Regions from separate parts of the Homo sapiens genome. Here region 1 is reported to be linked to region 2. The links are microRNA targets in miRTarBase. Many come from high-throughput screens and were not tested one by one. Region 2 holds a microRNA gene; the other region holds the end of a gene's coding sequence.
What was found. The annotated mature microRNA hsa-miR-329-3p reads AACACACCUGGUUAACCUCUUU and lies in region 2 at 1,180-1,201, shown strand. An mRNA with a match to its seed (bases 2 to 7 or 8) in the 3' UTR can be bound and repressed. Matches are read on the target gene's strand: a 7mer-m8 pairs with bases 2 to 8, a 7mer-A1 pairs with bases 2 to 7 and ends in A, and an 8mer does both.

Region 1: the mRNA of SORBS3 is a reported target of hsa-miR-329-3p. Seed matches in the 3' UTR shown: 7mer-m8 at 2,565-2,571 and 7mer-A1 at 2,560-2,566.

Annotation. Positions count from the first base shown.
Region 1 is chr8:22,574,069-22,578,168 of GRCh38, reverse strand. It overlaps SORBS3 (sorbin and SH3 domain containing 3), which reads right to left. Exons shown (of 21, transcript NM_005775.5): 21 at 2,381-3,502. The coding sequence ends at 3,441. Among named protein-coding and RNA genes, the nearest start is that of PDLIM2, 4.4 kb to the left of the region's middle. RefSeq lists a silencer at 3,584-3,733 and an enhancer at 3,123-3,841.
Region 2 is chr14:101,025,655-101,029,663 of GRCh38, forward strand. It overlaps MIR329-1 (microRNA 329-1), which reads left to right and starts at 1,131; the gene lies at 1,131-1,210. LOC124903407 (mucin-2-like) reads left to right here. Exons shown (of 5, transcript XM_047432049.1): 5 at 1-4,009. It overlaps MIR323A (microRNA 323a), which reads left to right and starts at 78; the gene lies at 78-163. It overlaps MIR758 (microRNA 758), which reads left to right and starts at 366; the gene lies at 366-453. It also overlaps MIR329-2 and MIR494.

The DNA of each region.
Region 1 (4,100 bases), not on the chromosome of region 2:
CACTCTGTGAAGAGTGCCCTCCCCACGCCCCTCACCTGTCTGTGCCCGCGTCTCAGCCTCCTTGCGTTCACACTCTGGCCCCCCTCCTCCCACAGACCGTCCTGGGTGTGTGTAAACTCCTCTCCCACGGGCTGGTCTCCGGCCTCCCGGCATGACCGCCTGGCCTGACGTACCTGCTCTGCCTCCCTGACTAGACTGGAAGCCCCTTGAGGGGAGAGGCAACTACAGGCAGGGTGAGCACAGCCCCGGGGGCACACAGACCTAGCCCCAAGTGCACAGCTGCGTCTCACCGGCTGTGTGACCTTCAGCAACCTCCTCGGCTCCTCCGGGCCTCAGTTTCCCCATGTGGAAAATGGGGATAATGTGCTGCTTACCGTCTTGTTGTAAAAATTGCTTGGCCACAAGCAAAAGCCAAGGATGGCACAGAGGTGTCAAACAGAGTCCCTGCCTCAAATGGGGTGGGGACTTCTGGGAAGGGACCCAAAGGAAGGGAAGTTCATCCATTCAATTCTTCCACACAATCATTCCAATAACATTCATTCAGTGAATACTGAGTGCCAGGCACCGTGCTTGCCTCTGGGAATGGAGAGTGAATCAAACACAAGCCCATCATTTCCTCAGAGAGCCCCTCCTGCATGCCTTGGACAGACTCTACAAATAGCCCCAGGTTCATCTGGCAGGGCTTTCTGATGGGTGGGTTGTGAATTCACAAAACCCACCACAAAGACAAGTCAGCGAACCCAGGCAGGGCACGCCTCTGTGGCACAGAAGGGGACATGTCCTGCTCATAGCCTCTCTGTGGCCCTAGGTAAGCCACATCACTGCCCTCCCCTCTCTCATGGGTGAGCCATCTCCAGCAGCCTCTGATCCTCCCTTCACCTCCCCAATCAGGCCAAGTCGAGGCACAGAAGCATCTTTCAGGCAGGACCGTGGTGCAGGCAGCCCAGGGTTGGAGGGTTTGTTAGCTGCGGGAAGTGCCAGCGCTCCATCAAAGAGAGGGCATGGAGTTGGTCTCTGTCCCAGGGAGAGGAGGCCTCAGCCCTGATATGTTTTATGAGGGAATCAGGGAGTTCATGAAAAAAGAGCTGGGATGGGGGAATGGCAACCAGGCCAGTGGGTTCTGAGGAATGGTTGTTTCCAGGCCAGGATGGGCTGGACCTGCCCATTTAGAACCAAACCAGGGTGAGGATGGAGGTGGATGGAGGACTCGTTCTTCCAGCTGCTGTTGAACCCCTGCTGGGTCAGGCCGCACCCAGGTTCAAGAAACCAGCCAGGGCTAGGCCACTGCCCTGTCAACCACGAGCCCCTCCCCTCTGTCCTGACAGAACTGGGCACCACCACCTTTCACTCCAGCCACCACCTCTTCACACCTGTCTCAGGTGACAGGCCTAGAAGACAGGATTGCCAGGAAGAACATAAAAGCGGCCCAACCTGGGCCGCCCTAGAGAAGTCCCTGACCTCACACATGACCTTCCTTCTCCAAGGGCCTGGACGAGGGCCCTGGACGAGGGCTGCCTGGGCATTTGGTAGATTTCAGGAAGTGAGGTGGACCTGACTTCAGCATTTAATAATGATGTGAGCTAGACAACTTAATTTCTCAGAGGCTGGGTCTCTCCCCCTGTAAAATGGAATCATGACCTGCCATCGTGAGGCTCATGTTAGGTAACACACGGAGAGGCCCTGGTGCCCTGCTCACCTCTCAGCAGCAGCCGAGAAACGGAGCTTCCTTTCTTGGCAGAGTGGCCATGCCTGGACTGTGCCACCACTGCCACCCCACAGGGACCTGCAAGCTCCAGGACTATAAAACCTTGTTCAAGGTTGGGCGCGGTGGCTCACGCTTGTTATCCCAGCACTTTGGGAGGCCGAGGTGGGTGGATCACCTGAGGTCAGGAGTTCGAGACCAGCCTGGCCAACATGTGAAACCCCATCTCTACTAAAAATACAAAAATTAGCTGGGCATGGTGCCGCAACCCTGTAATCCCAGCTACTCAGGAGGCTGAGGTGGGAAAATTGCTTGAAGCCGGGAGGCAGAGACTGCAGTGAGCCGAGATCGGGCCACTGCGCTCCAGCCTGGGCGAAAGAATGAGACCCCATCTCACACAGAAAAAAAACAACAAAAAACAAACAAACAAACAAAACACCCTTGTTCAAGAGGAGTTTTGGCTGGCTGTGCTTGACCACTCCCAGCTTCCCGCAAAGGATTGCTCAAAAGCCTGAGCCCAAAGAGGAGAATAAACACACACACACACACACACACACACACACAAGGGCTTCGGTGTGGAAACAGAGCACACAGAAGGAAAACAGCAGAATAGTTAGAAATGTCATCTAGCCCAGCAACCCCACGGTGGCAGCTCCAGAATCAAAACAGTCTGCAAACAAGGCCACATTCAGTCCCCCATCTCTGGTGTCTCCCTGCTACCAGGGCCTGGCACTGTTCATTCTCCCAGCACTTCTTGCCACACAGCTGCCCAATTGTGGGGGCTGCCGCAACCTGCCTGACACCCAAGGGCAGAGATCTTTGGAGGTAATAATGGTGTTTTTCCATCCTCCTCCTCTTACACACACACCTGTCCCACCTGTCTCCCAGCACAGCCCTCCACAGAAGGAATTCCCATCTCCTAGACAGGAGGAGGCATCCCCTACCCCAAGGAAAAGGCCGCAGAGACAAGGTCCCTTGTGTCCAGGTTTATTTTACATTCTCTTCCAGAGGGGATGTGGGGCTGGGGGAGAGCCAGCAGGCAGGCGGGCAGCACACAGCAGTCTCCCTGGGGAATATTTGAGCCAGGCTAGTGGTGCCTGGCCCCACAGTGCGGGGTGATATGCCAGGGCCAGGGCCAGGACTTGGCAGCCCCTGGGAAGAGGAGGCCTTGGGGCCAGAGCTCTTGCCAGGCCTAGATCGCTAAGAAGGTGCTGCGTCTGTCCCCCGCCTTGCTCCGCCCCCCCACACCCAGCTGGAGGCCAGAAGGCAAAGAGGGCAGCCAGCAAGCTGGGGTGCTGGGAGGAACCCCAGCAGGCGGGGGCGGCCTTTGGTCTCTACGAGGCTAGGAAGCTGGTTCTGGTTAGAGGAACCCCGTGGGGGCAAAGCGGAGAGCTGGTCCCTGTTAGAGGAAACGCTGGAGCAGGATGGGGGTGGGGGACTTGGGGTCTGGTCTCAATAAGGCCTGGAAATGGTCTCCGCTTCAAAGCAGACCTCTGTATTTGGGGAGTGGGGTGGGGAGGAAATGAAAGGGCTGTGGGAGGAATGCCTGTGAGTCGTGGGTGGGAATCAGTCCAGGGGGCTTCGAGGGGGGTCCGAGGGAAAGGCTGCGGGGGTCGTCTGCAGATGCTGGGAGCTCAGGTCCTGGGGAAGGAGGATGTGGGCGGGGGTCCTCTCCCTCCCACGAGTGCCACCGCTCCCCACCCCATCCTGGCTGGCTCCAAGTTGCCATGGAGACCACTCACACCGGGGCAACGTAATTTCCAGGGAACGTTCCGAATTTCTGGGTCCTCCGGGAGACACCTGAAAGAGGAAAGGCAGGAAGAGCTTTCCCCACTCCCTTCTTTAACAGGGATGCAGGGGTGAGGGCCTGCCCCCTGCCGGCAGTGCCCAGAACTGTAGGGGAGTTCTGTAGGGGAGCCCAGAGAGGGAATTGGATTTGCTCTCCTCCTTCCTGCCCCCTAGCGGCAGAAGCTTAGATGGGCAAAGCTACACTTCCCACACTCAACCACCAAAGAATCTGAGCAATCAACAAATGTGCATCACACTGTACACAGCAGAGTCACTCCCCCCCTCCTCCGCAAAGTGGGGACACAGGAGGAGGAATCACAGAACTGAAATCGGGAGAAACGTCCCTGGTCTAATAGGGCACCCTCACTTAGAGATGGGTGGGAAGGCCTATGGGAAGGCTGAATGCATTGCCCGAGAGCACCCCGACGCTTAGGAGTAAGCTTGGGACTCCGATCCAGGCCTCTCAGCCCCACAGAAACTCGTGTCTTGAAGAGGAGGAGGGGGGGGAACCCCAGCGGGCAAAGCATCTGGGGGGCCTGGCACCCGATGCTTCCCCAAAGCCAGCACTTCTGTTGGCTGCTTTCCTTCGTGCCATGAAGAGAAGGACGCC
Region 2 (4,009 bases):
CTCGCCTTGGAAGACTTCCAGGAGGTGATATCAGCTTTGCGGAAGAGCCACTGTCCTGGTGTCAGTACGGCTGCTGCTTGGTACTTGGAGAGAGGTGGTCCGTGGCGCGTTCGCTTTATTTATGGCGCACATTACACGGTCGACCTCTTTGCAGTATCTAATCCCGCCTTGCAAGCTTTCCTGGAGCTAACATCAACTGCGGGGGTGGGGGCCACTAGGTCTGCGCTCAGTGTGACCCAGCGGGGTTTGTGATGTGTTTGTCTTGTGTGTGACGATAACTCACGTGTGGCAGCCTTCTTCTCAGCACACTGCTCTGGCTTGGCAGCAGGGTTAACTTGCGGACAAGGAGCGTGGTGTCAGCACGTGCCTGGATACATGAGATGGTTGACCAGAGAGCACACGCTTTATTTGTGCCGTTTGTGACCTGGTCCACTAACCCTCAGTATCTAATGCCCCCTTGGAGAACTTCCTGGAAGAGGTGTCAACTTTTTGGGAAAGAGACAGTAAACTGGGGCCAGCTGCACTCTGTTAGACTCTGAAGAGAGCATCTGCGAGGCGTTTGCGACATGTATGCCAAATGTGGCTGAGTTGGACTGATTTTCACTCCGATCTCTTTCCTTGGAGGGCTTCCTAGATGTGGAGGCATCCAAGTTCAAGGGAAGGGGCATGCTGTCTATACCATCCCAAAGTCCTCCAGTGATCAGCTGACCTGAGTGTATGCACTTTAATTTACAACCAAGGTCGCCTGGCCCGTCACACCTCAGTCTCCACTGGGTCCTTAGCAGGACCTTTGGTGGAGTCAGCCTTGCTTTGGGGCATCTGTGCCTCTCTTGAGTAACTGAGAAAAGATGGCCCTGGAGGTTAACCCTAAACGCGATAGCTGCTGTGACCAGCCTTTTTATGGCATCACCACCTCTGGCTGTGATGTCAACTTCCAGACGTGATGTGGGGTCTGCTCCACTGGGGTACTTGGATAGATGGTTGGCAAGCAGCATGCATCCAACTCTTGGCTTCTTCCGGCAAATCAACTAACTAACGCTCAGTGTGCAATTCCATATTTAACAGGACTTCCAGCACTGAATGTCAAGTCTGGGGAAGAATCAGTGGTGTTCTTGTCAGTGTTAATCAGTGGTACCTGAAGAGAGGTTTTCTGGGTTTCTGTTTCTTTAATGAGGACGAAACACACCTGGTTAACCTCTTTTCCAGTATCAAATCCCATCTTGGAGGCCTTCTGGTCCAGACCTCAGCTTCAGGGAAGGGCGTTACTCTCAGCTCCAGTCCACTGGACAGAAATCTATGGTTAACCACGAAGCCTGTGCTGTATTATTTTGACTGATGTCATCTGTTCTACTAACCCCAGTGTCCAATCCGTATTTAACAGGACTTCCAGGACTGAATGTCAAGTTTGGGGAAGGAATCAGTGGTGTTCTTGTCAGTGTTACTTGGTGGTACCTGAAGAGAGGTTTTCTGGGTTTCTGTTTCTTTATTGAGGACGAAACACACCTGGTTAACCTCTTTTCCAGTATCAAATCCCATCTTGGAGGCCTTCTGGTCCAGACCTCAGCTTCAGGGAAGGGGTGCTGTGGACATAAATAAGGAGACACGAGCAAATGGCTGATCACTAAGCGTGCCCCATGTTTCTGAATTTTGCCACCGATTGCGCTAACCCTCAATGTCTTATCCCTTCTTAGGAGGACTTTTCAATGTGATGGCAGCCTGGGGGAAGACAGTGTCACCACGACAGTGTCACGGAACATGCAGGTGAGTTGTCTGTGGTTGCCTTCGTTGTGCTCCCAACGGATCGTGTGTGTAATTCAGGCTCTTTCGGCATCTGACCCTGCTGTAGGGGGATGCCTCGTCCTTGCCACACTCAGTGATGGGCTTGAATGAGCCCAGCCCACAGCAGGGGAATGCCAGCATGCCCTGGACAGATAGTGCAGGTGTCCTGCACGCCTGCCCCTAGCCTGCAGTTTATTCTGAAAGGATGTCCTGGATATAATGACACCTTAGGGAAGAAAAGCTGATTCTGAGGTCAAGAGGAGACCTTGGGGGCCCTGGAATTGGCCCAGGTTGAGACCTGTTTATTTCTCACAGGAATTGTGGAGTTGACTTCCTTTAAATCTGGAGGAATCCTTGATGTCATGCCAGCTTGAAGGGAGGGCATTGTCACCAGCCCTGATCCAGGGGAAGGGAGTGGATGGCCCACCACGGGGCATGTACCTCCCCAGGAACACACCTGCTCCACTGACCAGCACATCTGACCTACCCTCAGGGTTGTGTTTCTGCAGATGGTCCTTCTTTGGGGTGCTCAAGGAGAGGTTTCCTTTGGCATATCTGTTTCTTTTATATAAATCATTTCTGTGGACCACTCTTCAGTATCAAACACCAGTTTGGAAGGCTTCCGGATAAGACAGTTGTCAGGCCCAGGCCAGGGTGAGTGGGCCGAGATGGGTGCTTCCCCTGTTCTAAGCGTCCTGTCTGGCAGTAATGCTTGGTGCCCGATCCTTTCCAGGAGGACTTCCTGGAGGTGATGCCAGCCTCTGGGGAAGGAAAAGGCTCCCTGCCAGCTCTAAAGCCAAGGCACAGAAGTAGGTTTTGCTGGTGCTGCATTTGTTTTGATGGCACTTAGCTGTGACTGTGGGTCCTCGGCTCATCTGTGGCATTTGGGGATGGGACTGTGAGGGAGGAGGGCCTCAGGTTCTGGAGAAGGGCCAGGTATTTCCATGTCAACCCTGCTTTTTATAACCAGAGAGAACATATGAGGTAGCACCAATGACCTCCGCCACCAATCCTTCCTATTAGCTGATACCCAAACACCGTTCCTTCCAGCCGAAAAGAGCCCTCATAAAGAGAGGGCAGAGAGAGTGTGTCAAGGCCATGTGACAGCAGGCAGTATGCTGTTGCCTCCGGGGTATCCAGGGTAGGCGGCTGCTGGGTCCATGTAGATTGGGTGCTCTGCTGGCTACGGAGGGGTCAAAGGACAGGTGGCAAGGGTGCAGAGCCGCAGCCTGGCCCTGGGATTTTCTTCTCAGACCTCTGCTCCGGGGTCCACCTTCGGGGGAAAAGAGGGCACAATTTTACAACTTTGTAAGAGGAAACCTGAAGTTTTCTGACCCCTGATTCTCCCCAGCCCTGTCAGGATTGATCTAACTCTCTGTTGAGATGCAAAAGAGTCTGGAGATAACAGTACTCCCCCCACCATGAAAACAATTATTGTCAAAGGAGTTTTATAGCAAACAGAAAATCCGGCCCAGAATTGGCTAAAACATTTGGGGAGCTCACATCAGGAAATGAGATTCGTTTTTATTTCTTGATTCTGCTGAATTGGATTGAAGGCAGCAGAAGGCATTAAGTGGGATTTGACCTGGAGGAAGGTGGCCTGGCGGTGCTCCTGGCTTCCCCGACCCTCCCTCCCTAGCCGTGTGTAGCAGGCACTCACTTTGCTTACAGCTTCCTCGGTGCCATGTATCTGTTTTTGGAATCACACCTTGCCTGGAAGGCTGCTTGGACCCATGGCCAGTGCCACACAGGGGCCTGGGCACCGGCTAACTGCAGACCCAGCCACCTGCTTCTTGACCACAGAATTCGAGATTTACTCATGAGCTCTCTTGACGCACTGACTTTGGGATGCAAACCATTATGACTAGGGGCACTTCCCGTGGCCTGGACTTCCACAAGGAAACCCTGGTTCCACCGTCAGGAAAGCTCCAATACCTGGAAAGAGGTTGTACCTAAAGTGTTCTCTGTATTGGCGGAAAATGTTTCCCGGGCAACCTCTTTTCATTGTGAAGGCTTGAAGAGCTTTTGGCTGACTTCCCAAAAGCAACCTGGGACACGCAAATAGAAGCCATCTGACGTCTGGTCTACCCAGTGCCATGTAGATTCGGGGAATCTTCCTGGAGGTGACACCAACATCGGCGAAGATTCGGCAGTTCTGTTTTGATTTTTTTTGTTTGTTTTTTGATCAGTGCTAATCTTCGATACTCGAAGGAGAGGTTGTCCGTGTTGT